7 linked regions of the Homo sapiens genome follow. The protein of the gene in region 6 purifies or fractionates together with the protein of the main gene of each other region. This does not show direct contact. Each region holds a gene or a part of one and is shown on either strand. Other genes may lie near its edges.

The links.
Region 1: the proteins of SCAP (region 6) and VRK2 purify together in Homo sapiens (affinity purification with mass spectrometry; one large-scale study listed by BioGRID and IntAct). This does not show direct contact.
Region 2: the proteins of SCAP (region 6) and ST7L purify together in Homo sapiens (affinity purification with mass spectrometry; one large-scale study listed by BioGRID and IntAct). This does not show direct contact.
Region 3: the proteins of SCAP (region 6) and AAAS purify together in Homo sapiens (affinity purification with mass spectrometry; one large-scale study listed by BioGRID and IntAct). This does not show direct contact.
Region 4: the proteins of SCAP (region 6) and EVA1C purify together in Homo sapiens (co-immunoprecipitation; one large-scale study listed by IntAct). This does not show direct contact.
Region 5: the proteins of SCAP (region 6) and TMEM201 purify together in Homo sapiens (affinity purification with mass spectrometry; one large-scale study listed by BioGRID and IntAct). This does not show direct contact.
Region 7: the proteins of SCAP (region 6) and CDKAL1 purify together in Homo sapiens (affinity purification with mass spectrometry; one large-scale study listed by BioGRID and IntAct). This does not show direct contact.

Annotation. Positions count from the first base shown.
Region 1 is NC_000002.12:58,157,589-58,160,371, reverse strand, and holds the end of VRK2 (serine/threonine-protein kinase VRK2), read right to left. Parts: intron 1,130-2,783; exon of another isoform or gene 1,024-1,129; coding exon 679-1,023; 3' UTR 608-678; coding exon of another isoform or gene 572-607; 3' UTR 501-571; downstream 1-500. Other genes in the region: E3 ubiquitin-protein ligase FANCL, read left to right, coding at 193-324. UniProt on the Homo sapiens protein: Serine/threonine kinase that regulates several signal transduction pathways.
Region 2 is NC_000001.11:112,581,142-112,584,641, reverse strand, and holds part of ST7L (suppressor of tumorigenicity 7 protein-like), read left to right. Parts: intron 1-515; coding exon 516-670; intron 671-2,169; coding exon 2,170-2,267; intron 2,268-2,535; coding exon 2,536-2,650; intron 2,651-3,500.
Region 3 is NC_000012.12:53,311,611-53,315,110, forward strand, and holds part of AAAS (aladin), read right to left. Parts: coding exon 3,484-3,500; intron 3,240-3,483; coding exon 3,141-3,239; intron 2,832-3,140; coding exon 2,688-2,831; intron 1-2,687. UniProt on the Homo sapiens protein: Plays a role in the normal development of the peripheral and central nervous system.
Region 4 is NC_000021.9:32,510,206-32,513,705, reverse strand, and holds part of EVA1C (protein eva-1 homolog C isoform 1 precursor), read right to left. Parts: intron 1-3,500. UniProt on the Homo sapiens protein: Binds heparin.
Region 5 is NC_000001.11:9,591,911-9,595,410, forward strand, and holds part of TMEM201 (transmembrane protein 201), read left to right. Parts: intron 1-3,500. UniProt on the Homo sapiens protein: Critical regulator of angiogenesis and endothelial cell (EC) migration. Promotes the migration of endothelial cells, which is essential for angiogenesis.
Region 6 is NC_000003.12:47,420,442-47,423,941, reverse strand, and holds part of SCAP (sterol regulatory element-binding protein cleavage-activating protein), read left to right. Parts: coding exon 1-9; intron 10-1,405; coding exon 1,406-1,500; intron 1,501-2,912; coding exon 2,913-3,011; intron 3,012-3,169; coding exon 3,170-3,388; intron 3,389-3,500. UniProt on the Homo sapiens protein: Escort protein required for cholesterol as well as lipid homeostasis.
Region 7 is NC_000006.12:21,198,957-21,202,456, reverse strand, and holds part of CDKAL1 (threonylcarbamoyladenosine tRNA methylthiotransferase), read right to left. Parts: intron 3,367-3,500; coding exon of another isoform or gene 2,968-3,366; exon of another isoform or gene 1,868-2,967; intron 1,348-1,867; coding exon 1,183-1,347; intron 1-1,182. UniProt on the Homo sapiens protein: Catalyzes the methylthiolation of N6-threonylcarbamoyladenosine (t(6)A), leading to the formation of 2-methylthio-N6-threonylcarbamoyladenosine (ms(2)t(6)A) at position 37 in tRNAs that read codons beginning with adenine.

The sequences.
Region 1 (2,783 bases), on a different chromosome or scaffold from region 6:
TCCCTTGTTACTCAACATCTTAATAGTCTGCTATTGGCTCAGGAAATACATCCCTTACTCTTGCAAAACAAAATTAAGCTAAGTCTTCTGGAATAAAAACATAATGCACTTAAAAACAAAGGGAATGACATTTGGAGTATCTGTAATTTGTAATCATGCTGACGCTTCTCCTTTATCTTTTAAAATTTGCAGTGGCTGAGAGGACTACTAACTAGTAGACAGAGTTTTAACATCATATTTGGTGAATGTCCATATTGTAGTAAGGTAAGCAAATTGTTAATCACATCTCATAAAATGTGCCTAGCTTTCAGTAATATGTTCTAGAAGATAGATCTATATAGTATATCAGTTTATCTAAAACTTTTGAAACTCATTCTCTGTATTTCTATTTTTCAAATTCTCTGATCAAAAACATTAAACTCCTTTTCTAGATTTCCTAGGTGATCTGAAACTTCAGAAGTGTTTTCCAAACTGTACTATGACACTATTCTATGACACTATTTCTAGTACAAAGCAATTTTATTTTTTAGAGTGTCCACAAACTTTGTTAAAATATGTTCTCTTTTTAAAGCCAATTACCTTAAAAATGTCTGGAAGGAAACACTGAAATAAGAATACAACATTTCGGTGAAGAGCTGGAAACTTAAAAAATTATCAAAAGGAATTTTGGTATCATCTTCAGAGAAAAAATAAAGCAAGAAATACTAACATCAAAAGGACAGGTATGATGATGCGATAATAATAAACATCTGCGTTTGTCTCTTCACTAAGAGTAAACTGGGAAATTGTAGGCCAAAGTCCAGTTGAACTTTCTAAGTCTGTGATCCCCGTGCTGACTGTGGAAGTGTATTTATACCAAGATGGAGATCTTGACTTCTTGAATATATCTGGACTGGTAAAATCTTGATGAGGCTCATAAAATGAGTTTGGGAATTGTGTATAGCTGATTTTTTGTGGGAAACTGTTTACTTCATTCAAAGGTTCTTGAGACTCTTGATATTTCTGTCTTCTCCTTGTGCTTTCCTATGGAAAAAATACATATATAGTTTAGTTTGTTAGACGTGAGTTATCCAAGTATTTATTTTGTGTAGTGTGTAAGAATGCTAAATAAAATGTTATACAAGATCAAGTTTTTGCGTGTTATTTTTCCTGAGAAGTAATTTTTAGGTAAAGATCTTAAAGATTTACACTTTTTAAGAGTTTATAAACATCCAACAAGCAAATCTGGATATAATTTGAGTGGTTCTTTTAAACCACGTCAGTAGGCCATCTCTTAAGTAATTTATAATCTAAAAATAAATAGGATAGAATATGAAAACTGAATTTTCTTGGCAAAACCAAAAAATTGGGCTTAATCTTAAGGGGGTAAGATAGCCATAATTAGAAATATTTTGGTCATTAATGTGATTCTTTCTTTACCTTCTGATTCCATGGCAACTGAGAAGTGTCCACTGTACAGTGGGCAAAGGATGAGGCTGTACACAGCCAAAGAAAACTGCCTCAGGGGTAGCTATAGTGTTATGTCTCTTGGAAAGCTATACAGACGAACCAGTATAGACCGAATAGATATTAATATAAAGCAAATTAAGTGGTATTAATATAAAACAAATTAACTGGTTACTTATGCAAGTTTCGGGAGCTACTTCTATGTTTTCATCATTCCTGTTGGCCAAAGTCCCAGGAATCAGTTTCCTGATCACCACTTAACTGGCTGAAAGTCGAGTTTTTCTGCTTTGCTTTGGTGACATCTGGCATGCCCCCTCAGCACCATTTATCAAGTAACTAACTTAGAAGAGAAGAAATTTATAAAACAAAGCAAAATACTTTAAGCTTGTTCACTGTCCATCATTCTCAGAATAGCTACTACCTTCTCAACCTTTAAACTGCCACCCTTCAAACAAACAGCCCTCCCCTTTCTAGATACAGAGTTTTGGAAGTGTCAGAAAGGAGTCCTACATAAAACAAAGGATGTTTTAAAAACTACTAGCTTTCCTATGAAAAAAAATTACTTGAGAGTTAAATGACTCACTTTAGAGTTAAATAACTCATTTTAAACTACTCTTTCTGAGCTAACGAAGTCACATTAATGCAGTTTTTCATAAGTTTGTCAGCTTTATTAACTAAAGTCAAAATAAGTGAATAATTATTCCAGTAGGCCTATAAAGCATAATACAAATAATAATTATGCTATCAAATCATAGAGCAGCATTTACATATAGCTCACATGTGCAAGGCTGGGAGATATCTCCACTTAGGTAAGGATAGAAGTCAAGCTACTATAATTTCCAGAATCATCTACTGTGTAATCTATACACTTAATCTCTCTTGAACATCAGCAAATGACATCATATGGCAAGGCACTCATCAAAGAATTTAACCACCTGTTGTCTTCAGTACACTGAGGGGGTCTGATTAGGATAGTCTATAACAGGAGTTGCCAAAATTTGGCTTGGCTAGTTGCCTGTTTTGTGAATAAAGTTTTATTGGAACAGAGCCACATCAATTTGTTTATGTATTGTCTATGTGGGCTTTTGCACTACAATGGCATTGTTGAATAGTTCTGACAAAAACTGTATGGAAAGTAAACTGAAAATATTTTCTTTCTGGCCTTTTAAGAAAAGGTTTGCTGACCCCTGCTCTACGGCATTATTCTTCGAGTATTAGAAAGCAAACAGATCATCATAACTTGTTAAAATGCAGATCTCATTCAAAAGGTCTAGGAGTATGACCTGAGATTCTGTATTTCTGAGAAGCTCCAGATGATGCCAATACAGCTGGTCTGC
Region 2 (3,500 bases), on a different chromosome or scaffold from region 6:
GTGCTGCATGCCTGTAATCCCAGCTACTCGGGAGGCTGAGGCAGGAGAATTGCTTGAACCCAGGAGGCCCAGGTTTCAGTGAGCCAAGATTGGGCCATTGCACTCCAGCCTGGGTGACAAAAGCAAAATTCCATCTCAAAAAAAAAAGCAGGTATGACCAGTAGAGGGTATACAATTCAGATAATTCTTTATAAATCTTCTTTTCTCCCCCCTTTCACAAAAAGAAAACACAGGACAATGGGTCAGAGAATGAGATAGAAGTTTAAAAATTTTGTTTTTTTTTTTTAAAAAACAAAGAGAAGGGAAAGATAAGAAAGTGGAAGAATTGTGGAATCAGACATAAAGAATATACCAATGTGCCCCTATTAAGGTAAAATATTGAACGAAGGTTTTTTTTTTTCTAAAGATGGAAAAAGTGTAGGTAAGGAAATATGACATAGAGCAAAGGGACATAACCAAGAGAAAACACTTGCTTTACCATTTTATTTAAAATTGCCTTCTTGCTTTCTTCATAGCTGTGCCACTGCATATGTTCTACTGGCTGAGGAAGAAGCAACAACTATTGTAGATGCTGAAAGGTTATTTAAACAGGCACTCAAGGCAGGAGAAACAATTTATAGGCAGTCACAGCAGTGCCAGCACCAAAGTCCTCAGCATGAAGCTCAACTGAGTAAGCAAGTTTGAACTGGTTATTACTGTCTTTTAGCATCTGTAATTTGCTTGTGTCTTAACACAAACAACAATAATAAAAAACTTAATACTTACAGGTTAGTTAATTTTCACTGGAAATAACTAATCTATTCACAATACCTACAAGCCAGCAAGACAGAAATGTGTATTAGCCAGAGAATGCTTGTGGAAGGGAATAGATCTGCTCAGGTTATTGAGAGAAGATGTGCTGCTCTGAGACTTAACAGTAATTTATTTCATGTGAGAATTGGGCTGGTCATTGTAAAAACATAACTCAAAAACTTTCAGCATTCAGGAGAGCCTTCTAGTGATGATAAGCAGCTGTTATCTTTATCCTCACCCTTACTCTAAGCAACAGTAGAGGTACATTATTTGGTTGGTTCTTCAGACTGTGTATCTGCATATAGTGCTAGGGAGTGGCCCCTTTCACACCATCTGATTCTTAGCCCAAAATCCAACCTCATACTTGGCATTGATTCTTTCTTTGGTTGATTTTTCTCCATGATGTGCTTGAGATCAGATGAGCCATAGCAACAGAAGTCCTTTCTGTTCTTAGATATGCTCTACCAGTTATGATTGAGATTTTTTTTTACCAAAGATGTTAGAATCAGCAATGATGCTGCTTCCTGCTATTTTTATGGCCAGAGGGTTTTAGTTTCATGATTTTGGCAAATAGTGGGTAATAAATTGAAATATGTTTATATAATGCATTATCTACTGGCAGCTAAGTTCTAAATCTTTTTTTATGTGTAAATTAAAATTTGGATAATGTTTTTCTCCCTAAGCTAAATACAGATATATATGGTATGTTTCATTAATGCACAGTTTTTATAACACAAATCTGTGGGAATATATAATTTTGTAGCCTGGAACTAATGAAACTACATCTTTAAAAATGTCATGCCATTTGTCTTTGAATAATCTCAAATACGGTTATGAGCTAGTTACAGAAATATTTGTTAGCTCTTTCTAGAAGTAGTTTTATAGTTTGTCAACTACTCACTGTTAAGAAAAGTTTACATTAGCCATGGAAATTTTGTTTTGGACATTTTTTGTTTTTCATTTAAAACAATAGAGAGTATCAGAATAGTAGATCATTTATGCACAAACTTAAATACTAGGTTAATGTTATATCTTACTATAATGTATGTATTTCTTTTTTGCTAATGGTAAAATAAACTTGTCAATCATACACGAATTATATATACTGTACTTAAGTTACTATTAGAGGCAAAAATAATTAAATGTGTATTTTAAGTTTTAATACAGAAAACTTGAAACATGCGCAAAAATAGAGAACACTCCTGTTCAATATTTATCATCCAAATGTAGACATCATTAATATTCTTCCATTCTGACACAATTTAATTTTAATTGACTCTTCCAAGGGAAGCAAATAAAATTAATGGATATGTTAATGAAATAGCAGCCCACAATACAAAAGTGATAGTTGTATCATTTTTTTGTTTTTCTAAATAGGGAGAGATACCAATGTACTGGTATATATTAAAAGAAGATTGGCAATGTGTGCAAGAAAATTAGGAAGAATAAGAGAAGCAGTAAAAATAATGAGAGATGTAAGTAAATTGATGATGGGACTATTACATTTATTCCTCCAGAAACTAAAAATTTAGTTAAGTTGCCAGTTATTTTAATGCAGAATCATTGTATTTTAATTGGTAGTTTTTAGAACAAGGTATTTATTTAATATACGTACCTTTCTTAAGGGTTAGGTCTTCTTCACAGCTATGGTAAGAAACAAGAATTTCTACTTAATGAATCTGGCTCAGCTCTATTGAGTTCCTTTGTTATGATTTTAATCTTTCTTTTCCTTTTAATATACAGTTGATGAAAGAATTTCCTCCTCTTACCATGTTGAACATCCATGAAAATCTCTTAGAATCACTTTTAGAATTACAGGCCTATCCAGATGTTCAGGCAGTCCTAGCAAAATATGATGGTGAGTCATATTCCCTTAGTTGATAGCATGGTTATTCTTTTCCAATTATGTAATTATAAATGTGGTTATATTCTAGTATTTAATTTTCTCTTTCTGTTCTTACCAGTCAGTATTTAGCACTCAGAGGTTGCTATTTAGTATCTTCTTTATCAGGACTTTCATTAGCAAAAGTCTGCAAGGAAGAACTTTTCTTCTGTCAAGATTTACTTGTTTGTTTATTGAGTGCTTGTTTCTAATATGAGTGAGTCATTCAGAATATGACAGTGAACAAGACAACATGGGAGGCTGGGCATGGTGGCTCACACCTGTAATCCCAGCATTTTGTTTTGGAGACTGAGGTGGGAGGATCACTTGAGCCCAGGAGTTGGAGACCAGCATGGGCAACATGGCAAGACCCTGTCTCTACAAAAAAATTTTTTAAAAAAATTAGCTGGGTTTGGTGGTGTGTACCTGTAGTCCCAGCTACTTGGGAGGCTAAGGTGGGAGGATCACTTGAACCTGGGAGGTTCAGGCTGTAGTGAGCTGTGACTGCACCACTGTAGTCCAGCCTAGGCGACAGAGGGAGACCCTGTCTCAAAAAAAAAAAAAAAAAAGACGGGGAGCCCTCATAGGATTTACAGTTTATTTACAGTTTAGTGGAGCATACAGACAAATGAGCAGCAGTTACATTGAAGACAGCATGTTTGGGAGATAATTGGAGAAGTATGGGTGCTGTGCACATAGTAGGGGTACCTTATTTGTTTTGGAGTGTCAAGCAAGCCTAACAGAGAAGTTGCTTAGCAGTATATACTATAAGAGCAATTCAGAATAACATTTTTACAATGCTTTTTAGTTACAAAGTTCAATGATA
Region 3 (3,500 bases), on a different chromosome or scaffold from region 6:
TCTCTAAAAAAACCAAAAAACAGGCCAGTTGCAGCGGCTCATGCCTGTAATCTCAGCACTTCGGGAGGCCGAGGCAGGCGGATCACCTGAGGTCAAGAGTTTGAGACCAGCCTGGCCAATATGGTGAAACCCCTGTCTCTACTAAAAATAAAAAATTAGCCGGTGTGGTGGCACGCACCTGTAGTCCCAGCTACTTGGGAGGCTGAGGCAGGAGAATCGCTTGAACCCAGGAGGCAGAGGTTGTTGCAGTGAGCTGAGATGGCGCCACTGCACTCCAGCCTGGGCGACAGAGTGAGATTCCATCCCCCCCCAAAAAAAATCTGTGATCACGTGTTTTTTTCTTATAGTACCTATTGTCAAGGTTTAGGTATCAGGGTTACATTAGCTTTATAAAAATAAATCAGGAAGATCCTGCAACAAAAAAAAGGGAGGACAGGCCGGGCATGGTGGCTCACGCCTGTAATCCCAGCACTCTGGGATGCTGAGGCGGGCGGATCACGAAGTCAAGAGGAGAATCACTTGAACCCGGGAGGCAGAGGTTGCAGTGAGCCGAGATTGCACCACTGCACTCCATCCAGCCTGGGCAACAAAAGTGGAACTCCATCTCAAAAAAAAAAAATCTCATTATTTTCTTCTACAATCCACTTTGGTAACTTATATTTTGCTAGAAAATCAAACATTTCCACAGGGCACGGTGGCTCACTTCTATAATCCCAGCACTTTGGGAAGCCAAGGCGGGCGGATCACAAGGTCAGGAGTTCAAGACCAGCCTGGCCAATATGGTGAAACCCTATCTCTACTAAAAATACAAAAATTAGCTAGTGCGTGCCTGTAGTCCCAGCTACTTGGGAGGCTGAGGCAGAAGAATCACTTGAACCCGGGAGGCTGAGGTTGCAGTGAGTCGAGATCGTGCCACTGCACTCCAGCCTGGGCAACAGGAGTGAAACTCCTTCTCAAAAAAAAAAAAGAAATCAAACATTTCCTTCAGATTTTCAAATCTGTTGGCCTAAACAAGTCCACAATATTCTTTTATAATTCTTCTATTTTCTCCCGTATCTATATCTTTCCACTTCTGAAAATAGTATACTTTGGTTTTCTTTTTCTCCTTAATTAGGCTAACCAAGAGGTTTTCTTCTTTATTCATATATATACGTATATACACGTATACATACACGTATATATATATATACGTGTATATATATGTGTATATATATAAAACATATATGTGTGTGTGTGTGTATATATATATATATTTTTTTTTTTTGAGACAGAGTCTTGCTTTGTTGCCCAGGCTGGAGTACAGTGGCGTGATCTCAGTTCACTGCAACCTCCGCCTCCCAGGTTCAAGTGACTCTCCTGCCTCAGCCTGCCAAGTAGCTGAGACTACAGGCGAGCACCACCACGCCCAGCTGATTTTTTGTATTTTTAGTAAAGATGGGGTTTCACCGTGTTAGCCAGGATGGTCTCTATCTCCTGACCTCATGATCCACCCGCCTCAGCCTCCCAAAGTGCTGGGATTACAGGCGTGAGCCACCGCGCCTGGCCTTTTTTTTTTTTTTTTTTTTGAGACAGGGTCTCACTCTGTTGCCCAGACCAGAGTACAGCTGTAGTGGCATGATGTCAACTCACTGCAACCTCCGCTTCCCGGGTTCAAGTGATTCTTGTGTCTCAGCCTCCCAAGTAGCTGGGATCACAGGCACGCACCACCACGTCCAGCTAATTTTTTTGTATTTTTAGTAGAGATGGGGTTTCGCCATGTTGGCCAGGCTGGTTTCGAACTCCTGGCCTCAAGAAATCCACCCACCTTGGTCTCCCAAAGTGCTGAGATTACAGGCATGAGCCACTGCGCCTGGCCTAATTTTTGTATTTTTAGCAGAGACGGGTTTTACCATGTTGGCCAGGCTGGTCTCAAACTCCTGACCTCAGGTGATCCTCACGCCTTGGCCTCCCAAAATGCTGGGATTACAGGTGTGAGCCACTGTTCCCAGCCTTTATTCATAATTTTTTTTTTTTTTTGAGACAGAGTCTCGCTCTGTTGCCCAGGCTGGAGTACAGTGGCATGATCTTGGCTCACTGCAACCTCCGCCTCCCAGATTCAAGCGATTCTCCTGCCTCAGCTTCCCGAGTAGCTGGGACTACAGGTGTGTACCACCATGCCCAGCTAATTTTCATATTTTTAGTAGAGACAAGGTTTTGCTATGTTGGCCAGGCTGGTCTCGAACTCCTGACCTCAGGTGATCCAACCGCCTCCACATCCCAAAGTGTTGGAATTACAGGCATGAGCCACCGCACCCAGCTTAGTCATAATTTAAAGAACCAGTTTCTGGTTTTATTTTTAGTTAGTTTTCACAGGTATTCTTTTTCTAATTTTATTAGTTTCTGATCTTATTAGTACTAATTTTCTTTACACTTCCTTTAAGTGTAAAGGAAGTGTATAGTCCTCTGAAAGAGTCTTTCCACCCCGTAACCCACAGACACATTGTCCCCACAATCCAAAAAGCCCCTAGTTCTCTTTCTCCAGATTAGAGTATTCTCAGCAACCCACCTTGATCTTACTTCTGCTTTTCCCATAGCCCTGGGAAGTGCTGTGAGGACAAAGAACTTCTCCTTTCAGACGTCCTCACCACCCACCATGCCTAGCATTGCACAACTCTCAGGCCAAGGTAAGGCAGGCTACTAGGACTTACCGGGTAGACAAGGAGGTAGGGTCCAGGGTCCAGATAAGAATGCAGCTCTGGCAGGCCACAGCCAAGACAGAGGCACTAAGGGGCTTCCAGGCCAGAGACGCCACATTTCGCTGCAGCCGGTGCTTCAGGGAGGGGACTATGGTGCTAGGGTGAAGGGGCAGGAAACTGAGTCAAGGCAGGAACACTAAGGCTCCAGGGACCAGAGTGCAGTTAAGGAGGGAAAGCCACAGAGAAGAAGGATGATCCATCCAGGGGCCAGGGGCACCATAGGACAGGAGGGGATAAAGGTTAGGTCTAGAAGAAGCACGCATCCAGTTATGGAGCTTCCCTGACCCCAGTTCTGGAAGGAGCCCCATGAATCAGGTTCAAGAACTACAGGACTCCCCGGAACCAAGGCTGGCAAGGGAAGGTGATATTGACAAGTCAGAGCCCACCTGGTGTCCCCACACACACCTGCTGGCATTATACACACGGACTGAGTCATCTAGCAGGGCCACTGCAAACTTGTTGGTGTGGGGGTGCCATGCAAAGACACGCAAGCAGCAGCTGGACCTAAGGAAGGGGTTAACATGAAGAGTTCCTGCACCTATCCCTACCCTAGCCCAGAAGCTCACATTCATTTCCAGTAAGGACATGGTTTTTTCCTACTTTTTCTTGTATTCTTTTTTGGGGGAACAGGAGGAATGAGAATATGGTGAGCAATCAGAAAAGGAGTAGGAGTCTTTGCCTTCTCCCCAAAGGGAGTTTTGAGGTTCAGGACTTCCTTTCCACAAAGCTCCAGGGCTTGTGCACTCACCAATTTGTGACTTGGGC
Region 4 (3,500 bases), on a different chromosome or scaffold from region 6:
ATATATCTGGGCATGGTGGTGCGTGCTTGTAGTCCTAGCTACTAGGGAAGCTGAGGTGGGAGGATCACTTGAGCCTGGGAGGTCAAGATCATATCACCATACTCCAACCTAGGTAATAGTGTGAGACCCTGCCTCAAAAAAAAAAAAAAAAAAAGAAAAGAAAAATATTAAAATAAATAATATAAATATGTATATTATTTATAAATATTAATAATATAATAAGTATTGGCCGGGCACGGTGGCTCACGCCTGTAATCCCAGCACTTTGGGAGGCCGAGGCAGGAGATAACGAGGTCAGGAGATCGAGACCATCCTGGCTAACATGGTGAAACCCCGTCTGTACCAAAAGTACAAAAAAAAAACTAGCCGGGTGTGGTGGCGGGCGCCTGTAGTCGCAGCTACTCAGGAGGCTGAGGCAGGAGGATGGCGTGAACCCGAGAGGTGGAGCTTGCAGTGAGCCGAGATCACGCCACTGCACTCCAGCCTGGGCAATAGAGTGAGACTCCATCTCAAAAAAATAAATAAATAAAATAAAATAATATAGTAAGTATTATAATACTACTATAATGATATTATATCATTGTAAGTATTATAATACTTACAATAATATAGTAACAACTATATTACAATAATAACAACTATATTATTGTAAGTATTATAATGCTTATTATATTATTGTAAGTATTATAATACTTACTATATTATTGTAAGTATTATACAGATGGAAGCCTGTATACTGTAAGTAATATGCAGATCAAAGCTTCATCTCTCCCGACTTCACTTTCATCTTCCTCCCCTTTGAATTTCCCTCCTTTCCTCCCCATCCTGCAGCCCTCCTCTCCCCCGAAATCTTTGAGCCACTGTCCTCTCCAAACCCTCTCCTTCTGTGATGCTGTTAGGGCTTTCAAGGTGGGCCACAACTCAACTTCTCTGTCTTGGAAAATATAAACTTTGAGCCCCACTGCCAGTGATGCTGCCGACCTCAAGGAGTGCTGAGTGTGAGGAAGCTGAATCCCATCCATTTATAGTCTTTTCCAGCCACCCATGGTCAGGCCAGGGACAGATCTGGACAGAAACAATTCCATCCAGCTCAAGCCTCTGAGGTACAATGGTCATCCGTGGCCCCCTCCCCTCCTCTCCCAGTGGTGGTGTCGTGGGAGGGGCCGGGTACCCAGGGCAGACAGAGTAGGGTCACAGCAGAGCAATCAATTCCAGCAGTCAATTCCAGCAGCGACTTGAGCTATAAGTGAAGGAAGTCGAATGGGGACGTTTCAGGTTCCAAGAAGGGAGTAGGGTGCCACAGCCGGTAACTATGGACTTGCTACTGTACCTCTTTTTTCATATTTTGAGGATTCCTGGTGGACTGAATTAAATTACCCATAATCCTTAGGACATGAGACATTCTCTTCATTGGTCAATACATAGCCCTACTTTATGTCTAACGAATTACTTTTTAATACTGTAATTAGCACCAGTGCTATGAATGCACACCCGTATAGGAGCGAGGCCTTGACCACACCTGTGTCTAACCTGTGCTTCCCCATCCCCTTGCCTCCCCCTCAAGGTGACTACCACCTGAATTCCAAGCTCCTTACTCCCCTGTTTCCTTTTTTATATAGTTTTATTTTCCGTCTCTATGTATTCCTAAAATTTTATTTAAAGGGTATAATATTATAGGTAGTGTTGGAGACTTGGTGTTTTTTTTTAATTTAATATCATATCGCTGTAAAATATTTCACTGTCTTGGCTATAATGTAGTTTATTCACCCACTCTCCTGCTGGTGGGTCGGGAACTGTTTATTTGCCTGCTCTCCTGCTGTTGCCAGGTTTCTGCTTTTGTGGATGATCGTGAGCATTCTTGTCAATGTCCCTGGTCAACACCTGCAAGCGTTTCTCTTGGGTACTACCCTAGGAGGTAACTGATGGACTTAGGGCACGTGAGTTTCAATTTTCAGAACTACTGCCAACACGGTGTTCAAAGTGGCTGCAATGTGTGAGAAATCCTGTCAGTCCTCATCTTCTCCAGCACTTGGCTCACATAGACTTTTACATTATTTTCTAATCACATGGGTATAGAATTGTACCTTACGATGGTCTTGATTTGTGTTCCCCTGATCTGTACCTGTCTTCACATGCTTATGTATTTCCTCTTCTCCAAATGCTGGCTCATGTCATGTACCCATTTTTTTTCTGGGTTGCCTGTGCTTTTCCAGTTACATATAAAGGATGTGTATATTTTCTTTTTTCTTTTCTTTCTTTCTTTCTTTTTTTTTTTTTTTTTTTTTTGAGACGGAGTTTTGCTCAGTTGCCCAGGCTGGAGTGTAAGTGGCATGATCTTGGCTCACTGCAACCTCCGCCCCCCACCCCAGGTTCAAGTGATTCTCCTGCCTCAGCCTCCCAAGTAGCTGGGATTACAGGTGCATGCCATCACACCAGCTAATTTTTGTATTTTTAGTAGAGACGGGGTTTGCCATGTTGGCCAGGCTGGTCTTGAACTCCTGACCTCAGGTGATCTGCCCGCCTCAGCTTCCCAAAGTGCTGGGATTACAGGCGTGAGCCACCGTGCCTAGTCCAAGGATGTGTATATTTTCTATAGACTCTTGATGATAATCCTTTGACAGCAAATATATTGTGTATACATATAGATAGAGAGAGAGAGAGGGAGAGAGAGAGAGTCTCCCTTTGTCACCCAGGCTGGAGTGCAGTGGCACAATCATAGCCTGCTGCAGCCTTGAATTCCTGGGCTCAAACAATCTTCTCACCTCAGCCTCCTTAGAAGCTGGGACTACAGGCATGTACTACCATGCCTAGCTAACTTTTTATTATATTTTTTTGTAAAGATGAGGTCTGACTTTGTTGCCCGGGCTGGTCTTAAACTCCTGGCTGAAAGTGATCCTCCTGCCTTGGCCTCCCCAAGTGCTGGGATTACAGGTGTGAGCCATGGCATCTGGTGTGAATATCTCCTGGTAAGTGCCTTGTACTTTCACTTTCATTAAGATGTCTTTCAACCTTGTGAAATTATCTGAAAACCAGGGATGAAACACTGTTCTGCTCCATCTTCCCTGCAGGCACCTGGTCCCCATCCTCCTCTCTTGCCCGCCTTTTCTAGTGAATGGCCGGATAGGAACTATTGCAGGTTTATGGGCCATATGGTCTCTGTTGCAAATATAACAGCTCTGCTATTGTAGTGCAAAAGCGACCACAGACCATATATAAACCATCTTTCCTGCATGGCCTCTATAATCTTTAAGAAACACACATTGGGTCACATCACTGCCTGACTTAAAACTTATAGATGGCCTCTTCCCTCTCCTAAGCTATTAGGTTGGTGCAAAAGTAATGGCGGAAATCGGCCGGGAGTGGTGGCTCACACCTGTAATTCCAGCAGTTTGGGAGGCTGAGGTGGGCGGATCACTTGAGGTCAGGAGTTTGAGATCAGCCTGGCCAACATGATGAAACCCCATCTCTACTAAAAATACAAAAATTAAAATTAGCCAGGG
Region 5 (3,500 bases), on a different chromosome or scaffold from region 6:
CCGCTTATTGGCCTCTGTCCTGTGGTATCTGTCACCAGCTGCCCTGGGAGGTCGTCGTTCTTGTCTTGCTCACGTTTGCATCTCTGCCAGCCTAGGGTGGTGCTTGCTTAACTGATGGGATGTTCCGCTCGCACCAGGAGCGACCCTAGAATGGTGGATTGGGGCGTTTTCCATCCTGATGTTGGAGTTGCTGCTGTGGATTCAAGTATGTTTTGCTTGGAGATGGGCTGGAGGCCCTGGCAGTGCTAAGTTCTGAGTTGCATTTTGATGCTTCTGTCGCTGAAGCCCAGGAGGCCTCTTCTCTGGTCCTTCTGGTTGAATGAAACACGGTGTTGCCCACTTAAGCGGGAAGTGCAGGTGAGGAGCTGCTTGGGAGGCTGGCCTCTGGCTCCCTGGCCCCTGAGGGAACCTGACTCTTACAGTCTTTCCAACCCCGCACTGGGGCCAGCACACAGTGTCCCAGGTCCTGAGCAATGTGCTAAGGCCCCTGTCTGAGGAGGTGATGATTTCCCAGGGCTGGGCAGAGACTCTGGGAGCTGGCCAGCCTGCTACAACCACTGAGCTCCCCAGGGCAGGGACCAAGCCCCATCCAGTGCCCCCTCTAGCAGGTTCCCCCTACCTGGTGCTTTCCTAGGCTGAGGACCCAGCGCTGGGCTCGCACCTAGAACAGAGCCCCTCCCACCTGCAGGGAATAGTGAGGCATCCCGCAGGAGCTTTGTTTCAATACATGTCCGTGCTCAGGGCTCTGGAGTGGTGTCATCATTAAGGACACGTGCCCGTCTTGTTTTCCCTCAGTGTGTATGTTGGGCTTGTGGACGGGGCAGGTACAGAGCATGCAGCTGCCCTAGCTTTTTCTTAGGGACCCATCTCCCTCCGGGCTTCCTCAGGCTTCCCAGGGGCTCGGCATCGAGCTAGCAGGAGCCGAGATAGTGGCCTCCAGGCCCTCGTGTCCACCCATCAAATGGGACCCATAGGGCCAGCTGCTGTCCCCCCAGAGCTGGAACCGTTGTGGGCAGGGGCAGCCCCTCCAGGCCCGAGCTCCTCTCTTGCTTGTGTTGCAGGGACATTCTGTCACGTTACCTCAAACCTTGCCCACCAACTGTGGTTTGTCCCAGAGTCAAGTTAAGGACGGAGGTTGTTGGCTTGCAGAAGAGAAGTGGGCTGAGGGGTTTATCAGGGAAACTTGGGGGCTTCTCCCAGAGCAAAAACAGGGTCCAGCCTAGGCTGGCTCAGAAGAGATTGACCCAGATGCTGCCTCAACAGGCCGGGCAGAGGCAAGCATAGGCTAGGGGCCAGGACTTCCCCCACCTGCGTGGGGACCTCGTCCGAGCTGTGGACAGTGTTTCACATGTGGTCATGTGTCTGACGCCGCCGTGCTGGTGCCTGGGGGACCTGCAATTCATGCCCAGCTCCCCATCGACCCCTGGCCTACCTGCCTCTTGGGACCTTTCAGGGCTCACCCCCAAAGGCACTGTGGGAGAGGACCCCCTGGCAGGTAGGGCCCGCCTGGCCAAAGTGGGTGGCAGCTGCTCTGGCCACCAGAGAGCCCACCCCCAACTCTAGCAGGGATTACCCAGGGCTGAGAGTGACAGGAGTTAGAGCTGCTGGCCCCAGGGACAAGGGCTAATCCCTTGCCTCCCCCCTCTTCCGGGCCGCCTCATTCTAGATCAGTGGAGCCATTTCCCTAGCAACAGAGCAGGAGATTCAGAATGGAAACATGACTTCCTGGGGTGGGCGGGGCTTCATGGCAGGCACCCTGGACAGAAGCCACAGCCCCTGCTCAGCTGTCATTGGTCCCCTAGGCAGGCTCAAGGGTTGACCTTCCTTTTCAAACAGGGTAAGAGAGCTGAGGGGCCTTCCGTGGGGATAGGAAGCCTGTCACCCAAAGTCAGTTGGGTGCAGAGCCTTGTCCGGCTCAGGGGTGGGGGGTCACACAAGCAGGTCTTCACCCATCAGGACACGCCCCCATGCACAGTTACAAAGAAGCCTGTACAACAGCTAGTAATTAGCACAGGGAAGTCCACGTGCTTAGTTGCCCGGGAGTGCTAGATGCGGGCACCGCAGCAGAGCAGGTCTCCACATGCCCCAGAGCGAGTCTCCTTCCCTGGCTGTTCATGTAGTCGGCGCCCGGTGGCGCTGTCCTAATGCCGAGCACTGAGCGCCTCCCTGCATTCTCCTGTAGGATCCTCACAGTGGCCTCTCCTGGGGCAGGGATGCTCAGCAGCCCCTTTTGACAGGTGAGGGATGAGACTGCGGCCCTAGAAGGCAGAGCTGCTCTCCAAGGCCATGCCTGTTGCCATACTGCCTGCCCAGCTGGCTGGCTCCGTTTCGTCGCTGGTCTGCAGGCCTTGCCCGCTGTCTCCATGCTGTTGACAAGATGCAGCGGTCCTTGTCCTCTGTGAGGGCTTGGGCCTGTGCTGGGGCAGGGGGTGTGGGGTGAGAAGGGTGTGGGCCGAGGCTGCTGGGGGAGATCCCAGCTGCCCCTGTGGGCCCTGGGCCTTCCCCGCAGGGCCTGGTCCCATCTCCCCTTCTCTCCCAAGCCTCCCCCCACTCCATGTAACTTGGCTTTTTTGCGTACATACTCTAGGCCAGTCACTGTTAAGTGCGTCCCACGAGCAGTCCCTTGTGAGGGAGGTGCTTTTGTCCCCAGCTGACAGGTGATCACACATCTCCCTTCATATGCCCCTGGTCAGGAGAAGGGGGTGGAGGGGAGGGCCGGGCAGCAGCAGTAGTGTCAGAAGCGGGAGCCCTGCTTCCCAGGGCCCAGCCTCCCCCTCAGGCCCCTGGCCAGCCCGATGGGTTAGCGACAGAGCTGGCTCTTTGCAGAGCACAGCACCTTTCTGTCTTGTGTCACTGCGTCCTTGCAGCATGCAGAAGCCGGGGGTGCTGTGGTTGCCCCCACTTCACAGATGTGGACACTGAGGCTGAGAGTACAGGAACTTCCTGGGGCTCCGTCCTCCTTTCTCTGAGCAGCGCCTCAGGATGAAAGGCCAGAGGGCCGTGCTCTCTGGTCCTGTGGACGGGGGGCCGTCTGTGCAGGGAGTGGCTGCCCACTCTGGCAGGGGCTCAAGCGGTGTCCTCGAGCTGGAGGTGGCCCCTGGGGGAGAGGTGGAGAGTCGGAGCAGCAAAGCCGGGGCCCCAGGGCTCCCACAGCTGCTGCCTGTCACCCACATTGTTCCTGGATTTCCGGAACTGGGGGGCTTTTTTGGGCAGTGGCGGTCTCTCTGCCCACCCCTCCCCAGTCCCCCAGTGTCCCACAACCAATGAGGTGGGTAGAGGGGGGCCCAGAGCATAGATCCCCCAGTGTCTGGGCTGGGATTATCCCGAGGCCCCACCTGTCACCACACGTGTAGCCAGCGAGGGCCACTGTCCTCTCCACCAGAGAGGGTTGGCCCCAGGCTGGGCAGCTGTCACTTGCTCCCTCCCCTCAGCCTCCTTGGCTCTCACATCCTGGGACTGTCTCTCTCTGGAGCACAGGAGGCCCCTTTCAATCTGGAGGC
Region 6 (3,500 bases):
TCGCCCAAGGTAACGCAGTGGGAGAGTTGGGCAGAGGGCTGCAGGAGGGGCTGGAATGGGGCCTGTTCCTCTTGCTGTTAACGCTCTGTGAGCAAACAGAGCCCTTGAAATGTCCCTTGCTCTTGCCTCCGGCATAATATGCAGTGGGCCACTGGGCCCTGGCAGCTCTTGAGTGTGTGCCCTGGGGAGCCATGGGGCCATTGGACTGTACTTCGTCCTGGTTCATGTGTCAGTAAGAAAGTAAACCAGGCTGGGTGCCATGGCTCACACCTGTAATCCCAGCACTTTGGGAGGCTGAGGCAGGTGGATCACTTGAGCCCAGGAGTTCAAGACCAGCCTGGGCAACATGGTGAAACCCCATGTCTACAAAAGATAGAAAAATTAGCAGGGCATATTGGCATGCACCTGTGGTCCCACCTACTCAAGAGGCTGAGGTGGGAGGATTGCTTGAGCCTGGGAGGTCAAAGCTGCAGTGAGCCGTGATCACACCACTGCACTTCAGTGTGGGTGGGGCTTGTGTTTGGTGGTGGCTTTCTGTCTGGGGAGTTTAGCGCCTAGTATTTTCTCTTACTGCCTCACTCCAGCACACTAGGCCCAAGCCCCGGGGGCTGGCCATTTCAGAGACGCTGCCTTCACGGCTGCCAGAAAAGCTCCCTCTGGCCCTGCTGGTAGAAACTGGGGATCTGGGGTTCTAGGGAAAATGAGAAAAGGGAGAGCCTGGCCTTGGAGGCCTGGTCACTTGAGCCTCTTCTTCCTCGTCACCCCATGTCTGTGAGGAATGGGGCTGTAGGCAGCCGTCCATTCATCCAGACCTCTGTGAGCCTCTGTGATAAGCCAGGCCCTGTGCTGGATATGGAGTTAGGAAGAGATGGGGCGAAATTGTCCTTACCCAGTAAGAGCACAGAGCCTTAGACATGCGACAGTGTGATAGCGTGGGATCAGGGCTCACTACAGGAAGGGGCTTGAGGAAGAACGCAGCCAGGTCCTCTACCCGCCGAGTGCTTCTGCCATGTGGTTGATGGGCACACTGTCATGCTGGCCCGTGCAGACCAGACAAGAACCACATGCGGAGGTTGGATGTGGTTGTTGTGGGTGGCACTTGGCTTTCCTTGTGGATTTTCTCATCTCCACACTCTGCTTCTTCCCTCTTTTGATGATTATAGCTCTCCTCTGCACCCTCCAGGCTGTGAACACCCGTTCCCCGTAGCAGCTGTGTGGTGGTGATGGCCCCTTAAAGTCTGGGCATTAGCAGGACCCTGAGGGTTGGGGTGCTTTGGTGGAATGGCTCCTTCAAAGGGCTGGGGGGCCTTGCCATGCCTCTGCCACTCCGAGGCCCATGAGGTTGTGTGAGTCATGTCGCAGAGTGGCCATGTGTTGCCCTGTGCCCTGTTGCTGCCCTCTGCAGGCCTAAGCAGCGAGAGCTGGTCCATCATGAAGAACATGGCCACGGAGCTGGGCATCATCCTCATCGGCTACTTCACCCTAGTGCCCGCCATCCAGGTAAGGCCCCAAGGCCTGCCACCTGGATGAGCATGGAAGCAACTGCTGTGCTCCCCAGCTGTGCAGCCATGGGCAGGGTGCTCCCCTCTTCAGCACAGGCATCCTTGCTTCTGAGGTGGGACCTCTTTGCCTGGCAAGCAGATCACTACAGCACCCAGATGGCCCCTGGCATGCCTGGCTCAGAAGTGCTCAGCAAACCCTGGCTGGGTTCCCAGATTGAGCACCTAGCCAGGCAGACTCTGCCCTTGACCCTGTCTTCCTACCCCTCCCTGCCTGCTTCCCTTTCAGCCAAGTGGCAGGAGGAGGCTGCAAGGGCATGGCAGGAGCTGGGGACTGGCTGTGCAGTTTGTCACACCTGTTTCCCATTTTTGAGGGAGAAGCACCGTGGGGTTCCTAGACCCTTCCTCCGGTCTCCTCCCTTGGCCCTGGCCTGTGCCGCAGTCGCCAGACGCATGGCCTTGCCTGGCCTGACCAGTGGGAGGGCCACCACCCATTGCCCAGAGTGACCCTGCTCTTGGCAAAGTGCCCTCACTCAGCTGTGGGCTGTGAGCAGAGGTGGAGGTGGCCCTGCACTGAGCTGGAACCCCAGACTGATGCCAGCCATTCCAGAAGGAGTTGCAGGAAGGGGAGGATGCCATCTTTTCTCGCCCGTCTTTCCCCCAGGGCTGGCAGGCCAGCTGAGGGATGGGGGTGAGCAGAGAACAGATGGGCTGTGGGCTGCTTCTCCTGGAAAAACAGTAGTATCTGCAGGATAGGGTACAGTCTTGGGACGTTAGAGCTGAGACAACCACTGTGCCACTATCTGCACTCCATGGTCTTACCCCAGATCGGAGTAGCACTGTGGTGATGTGCTAGAGGTCTCAACACCGACATCTCAGAAAATTTTGTCTGCTGACAGAGCTTGGGGAGCAGAGAGCTCACCCTTTTTCAGTTTTAGAGAATTAATCCCTCTCTCTCTCTCTTCATTGTTCCGGGGCAGTTGCTGGCTGGGAACCTTTCTGAGAGCCCCTGAATCAGGCCTGGGCTCTAGCTGGGTTGGTGATGCATGAGCAGGGCGGGGGCTCAGTGGGGAAGGACTTTTTGGGGAGCAGGCTGGTGGGGCTTAGAGGTTTCCGGGTTGGATCAGGCCTTCAGTCCCCTCTAGAGGGACCGGAAGATTCAGGGAAGGTACTTCCCCTTCCCTTTCAGCCCTTTCTGAAGAAAGTGTGAGGGTTTCTTCTGCCCCCTGGTGGAGACGGGGTGAGCTGCTGCTGGTATGTGAGCTGAGGACCAACCAGCATCTCTCATCTCTGCTGTGCCCTGCCTGCTGCTGCCCTGCCGGTTATGAGGTGGCTGCAGTCCGGGTACTGCTCCTCTTGGGCTGGGACAGTGAGGTCACGGCACCCCCCCATCCCCATGTGCTCTGATTCCAGGAGTTCTGTCTCTTTGCTGTCGTGGGGCTGGTGTCTGACTTCTTCCTTCAGATGCTGTTTTTCACCACTGTCCTGTCCATTGACATTCGCCGGATGGAGGTAGGAGTGGGCTGAGCCCTGCCCTGCCCGCCTCCTCAGCCCTGGCTGTACTGAGGGAGTCCTGGGTGAGAAGGGTGTAGACCTCGGGCAGGACAGCGGTCCTGTGCGAGCAGCCTCTGGATGGTGGACTCAGGCCCTGACCACTGTGCCCCCAACAGCTAGCAGACCTGAACAAGCGACTGCCCCCTGAGGCCTGCCTGCCCTCAGCCAAGCCAGTGGGACAGCCAACGCGCTACGAGCGGCAGCTGGCTGTGAGGCCGTCCACACCCCACACCATCACGTTGCAGCCGTCTTCCTTCCGAAACCTGCGGCTCCCCAAGAGGCTGCGTGTTGTCTACTTCCTGGCCCGCACCCGCCTGGCACAGCGCCTCATCATGGTACCTGCCACCCCTGCCCTGCCCTGCCCTCTTCTGGAGGGCCGGTGCTCCAGGCCCCTTGTGGTGCTGCACTTGGCCTTAGAGTGGCAAAGGGTATTCCTCAGGCCCTGGT
Region 7 (3,500 bases), on a different chromosome or scaffold from region 6:
GGTTACACTGCTCCTTCCTGGCCACCCATACTATCCCCCAAGTACAATTTTTTTTTTTTTAATAAACAGCAAAAATGAATGGTTATGTTTATCAAGTTTTAGAGTTATCTCCTGATCATGCAGGCTGATGCATTTGGTAGGATTTTAACAAAAGCTGGTCTATACCATTCCAGTACGGGTTAGACGGCCATGCACGCAGATCCTTCATGGGCACTTGTGAAGCACATGTGAATTATCACTGCTGTCGGACACAAGAATCCAGTGCCACAGTCAGTGAGAACACAGACAATAGTATTGTCTTTGTTGCTATTGCCAGAGTGAAGCGGTACTATTGCCAGAGTGAAGCGGTATTCCCTTTATTTTAACGAACATGTCCTTGCAATTTATTTTGAGGAACAAGATTATGCACAGATTAAAACAATTTCGGAATTACATGGCCAGATAAATATCAGTTATTTTTTTCCATATGTTAAATCACTGTTATATGCTTTTTTTTTTTAAGCGCTTAACAATTGTGTTGGAGAAAGGACATCAAATGATGCTTAGAAATGTGATACACATTTTCATTTCACACTCCATCAGCTTTTACAACTGTAGCTCAATGAAATGTGAGAGAGCTTGGCAAACGGCCATATTTACCAAGGTATAAAATAGGGGTCAGGTTACTTTTTTATAGAAAGAAAAAAATGTTTAATTTTCACTCCACATGACTAAAGTAGATATCCAGCTAACACCCTTCTGAAAGGCACCATAACTGCATATATGATATGGTTTAGTGCCTGTTCAGCTGTAGGTTTTTACTACAGTATAAACAGCTTTGTAAAGCAAGAAAACACCCCTTTCTTCATCCCCTTCCACTCAGGATCTACTGACATAGAAACATACTGGATCAGATCATCTTTTGGTGTCAACATTTTCACCTGCAAATAATGGCTTTTACCCCCTGCTTCTAAACTGGAAGCAGAAAGAGCTTATTCTCTTTACAGCCAGAGAAGCAAAGCTATCGGCATCAGCAAAAACACATCTTTCTAATTCAGATTTCAATCTGTCAGAAAGGATTAAAGCCTCATGCATACATAAAAAGGGAACTATAAATGATAACAGAAACATGGCCTGGAATCACTGTGCTTCCACAGCTGCTGTTTTACTAGCAGGGTAGAGAGGAGAGCATCTTTTACTTACCTTTGTCAAACCCGAGACTTCTCCCTTTGCTAGCGGTTTGCTGATGGAGGGCGTGTACACTTTGGCATCAGATACTGGCTGCCCTTTCATAAAATGTTTGCCTGATTCATAGATGTCCACTTCAACCATCTTCCCCATGAACGCAGGGTTCTTTGGCACTAAAACCTTAAACACATTTGTTTCAGAGGCTTAATTTTTAAAAATAAACATTTTACTTTAGAACAGTTTCAGATTTATAGAATTATTGCAAAGATAGTATGGAGAGCTCCTGTATACCTAACTCCCAGTTTTCTTATTATTTACCGTCTTACATTAGTATAGCACTTTTGCCACAATTAATGAACCCAAATTGATATATTAATATTATTAACCGAAGGCATACCTAATTATCCAGGTTTCCTCATTGTCCCTCAATGTCATTTTTCTGTTCTGGGATCCCCTACAAAGTGGACTCTATCTTCTAGCTGCTCAAGGGTCTGCAGAGCCTGCAGGAAGGAAAGGCACTCCTGGGAGGGGCTCCTGGGCCCCTGGGCAGTGCTTTTCCAGTGCAGGATGTGCCTGATGTCCTGAGGCACGTGGAAGGCAGACCTGGGAAATCCCCCAGCAATCAGCCAGCCACTTCTGGACAGGCCTTTGATATCTTGCTTTTGGCTATTCCATGCAATGAGGAAAACCGAGACAATACTGATGAAAGCCTTATACTTTTAATACTTTCCAAGTGAGCTGTCAGAGTAATGGTTTGAAAAGACACTTCAAACAGGCCTGCGTGTTTGTGTCCGTGCATGTGTGTGCTGTGTTTTGAGGGAGAAGGAGGTACATTTAAAAGAACCTTCCAATAACACTGTACACTGCTGTTTGGAGCTAAATGACTCCTGAAACTAACAGCTGCCGTTCATTTCCCTTGCTCTGTTAGAAAAGGCATGTGTTTGTCAGTCCTGGGAATCTACCTCCATCTAGAACCAGTCCTCTGAAGGGTACTTTGGCTTGTTCACAGGAAACTGTCAGGTGGTCTCTTTCCACTAGAGATTCCTGATAAAAGTACTTGTTTACTTCAAGCAAACGTTTCCCTTCCTTTGGGACCCACAGGTAGCTTGTGTGTGTGATGTCTCCCTTACACTTCTATTTTAGCACTGCAGCGACTTGCCAGTCTTTTCAAGTTAGAATCCAAAATAAATAGACCAGTTCTAATCCAGTAATACTTGGATATCTAGATACAATCTTCATCTCTGGAACTCATCTTATTTAGAAAAATAATTCCTAGAAAATCTTTGATATGCTTAGTTATAGAGACAGAAAAGTCAGATGAGAGCCAGGAGTTCCACAGCCAATCTCTCTGAAAGGCAAAATTGAATCTTGGTCTGAGTTTGATTTTTATGACCACTGAGTACACTGCTTCATCAAAGTAGAAGAAAAAGGTCACCTGGGTGGTGAATTACTTAGGGCAGGCAAAAAGAACTAAAAGAGCTTTAGTGTTAGGATATAAAAAGCCCATTTAAATCAGTTTTTATAAAATAAGAAAATCTCTAGACCAAACTAACCCTGGGAGATTTGGTACTATTCTGGGGAAAAATAACCCTCCTTGATCTGCTGCCTTGATCTGAATGAAGGGCTCAGTGTTTTCCCCTCCTCCAGTTTTAATAATTGGAAAAAGCCCGACTGCTTTAAATTGGAGGAAGCAGCTAACGAGGCATGCCACTGCCTTTAAAATGAAGGGAAAAAAGTTCCCTGCTGAGGCAAAACCCAGATGGCAAGAGAAAGGAGAGAGAAGAGGCAACCAAAATGCAATCAAGCTCCTCCCCAGGGCTGAGCAGAAGGTTGGCCTGAATAGGAAAATGGCCCTCTGGGGTATATTAATGAGATGGGGAAATGGGGAAGCGATGCAGGCCAGACATGGAGTGCTGGGAGCCCTTCCTCAACTGCAGTCTCCACCGGTACTGAACAGAGCACGTTTAGTCTGGGCTTTGAAAAGCTCCCCTGTTTCCTGGGGACGCACTGCCCAGTCTGAGATGATTCCCTGGGGAATGTCAATGCTGGGGGCCTCTTCAGCTCCTGCTTTCCTGCCTTCTGACACAGGCAGCCTGCTTCCTCTGCCCATCCCTCATCCGACTTGTCCACCTTGGCCTTCAGCATCTTCTCAAGCTCTAATTCCAGCCATGATCCATAGCAAACATTTTCACCTCTTATCTGATAAGAAAGAAGCAAAAAAGTAGGAAGCTCCATTTGATTTTAATACAATCCAGAATGATCAGTGAAAATCTCCGTACGCCCATGACAGTCTCCCACACAGGCTATCATGAGATGGGAGACACAGGCTACCA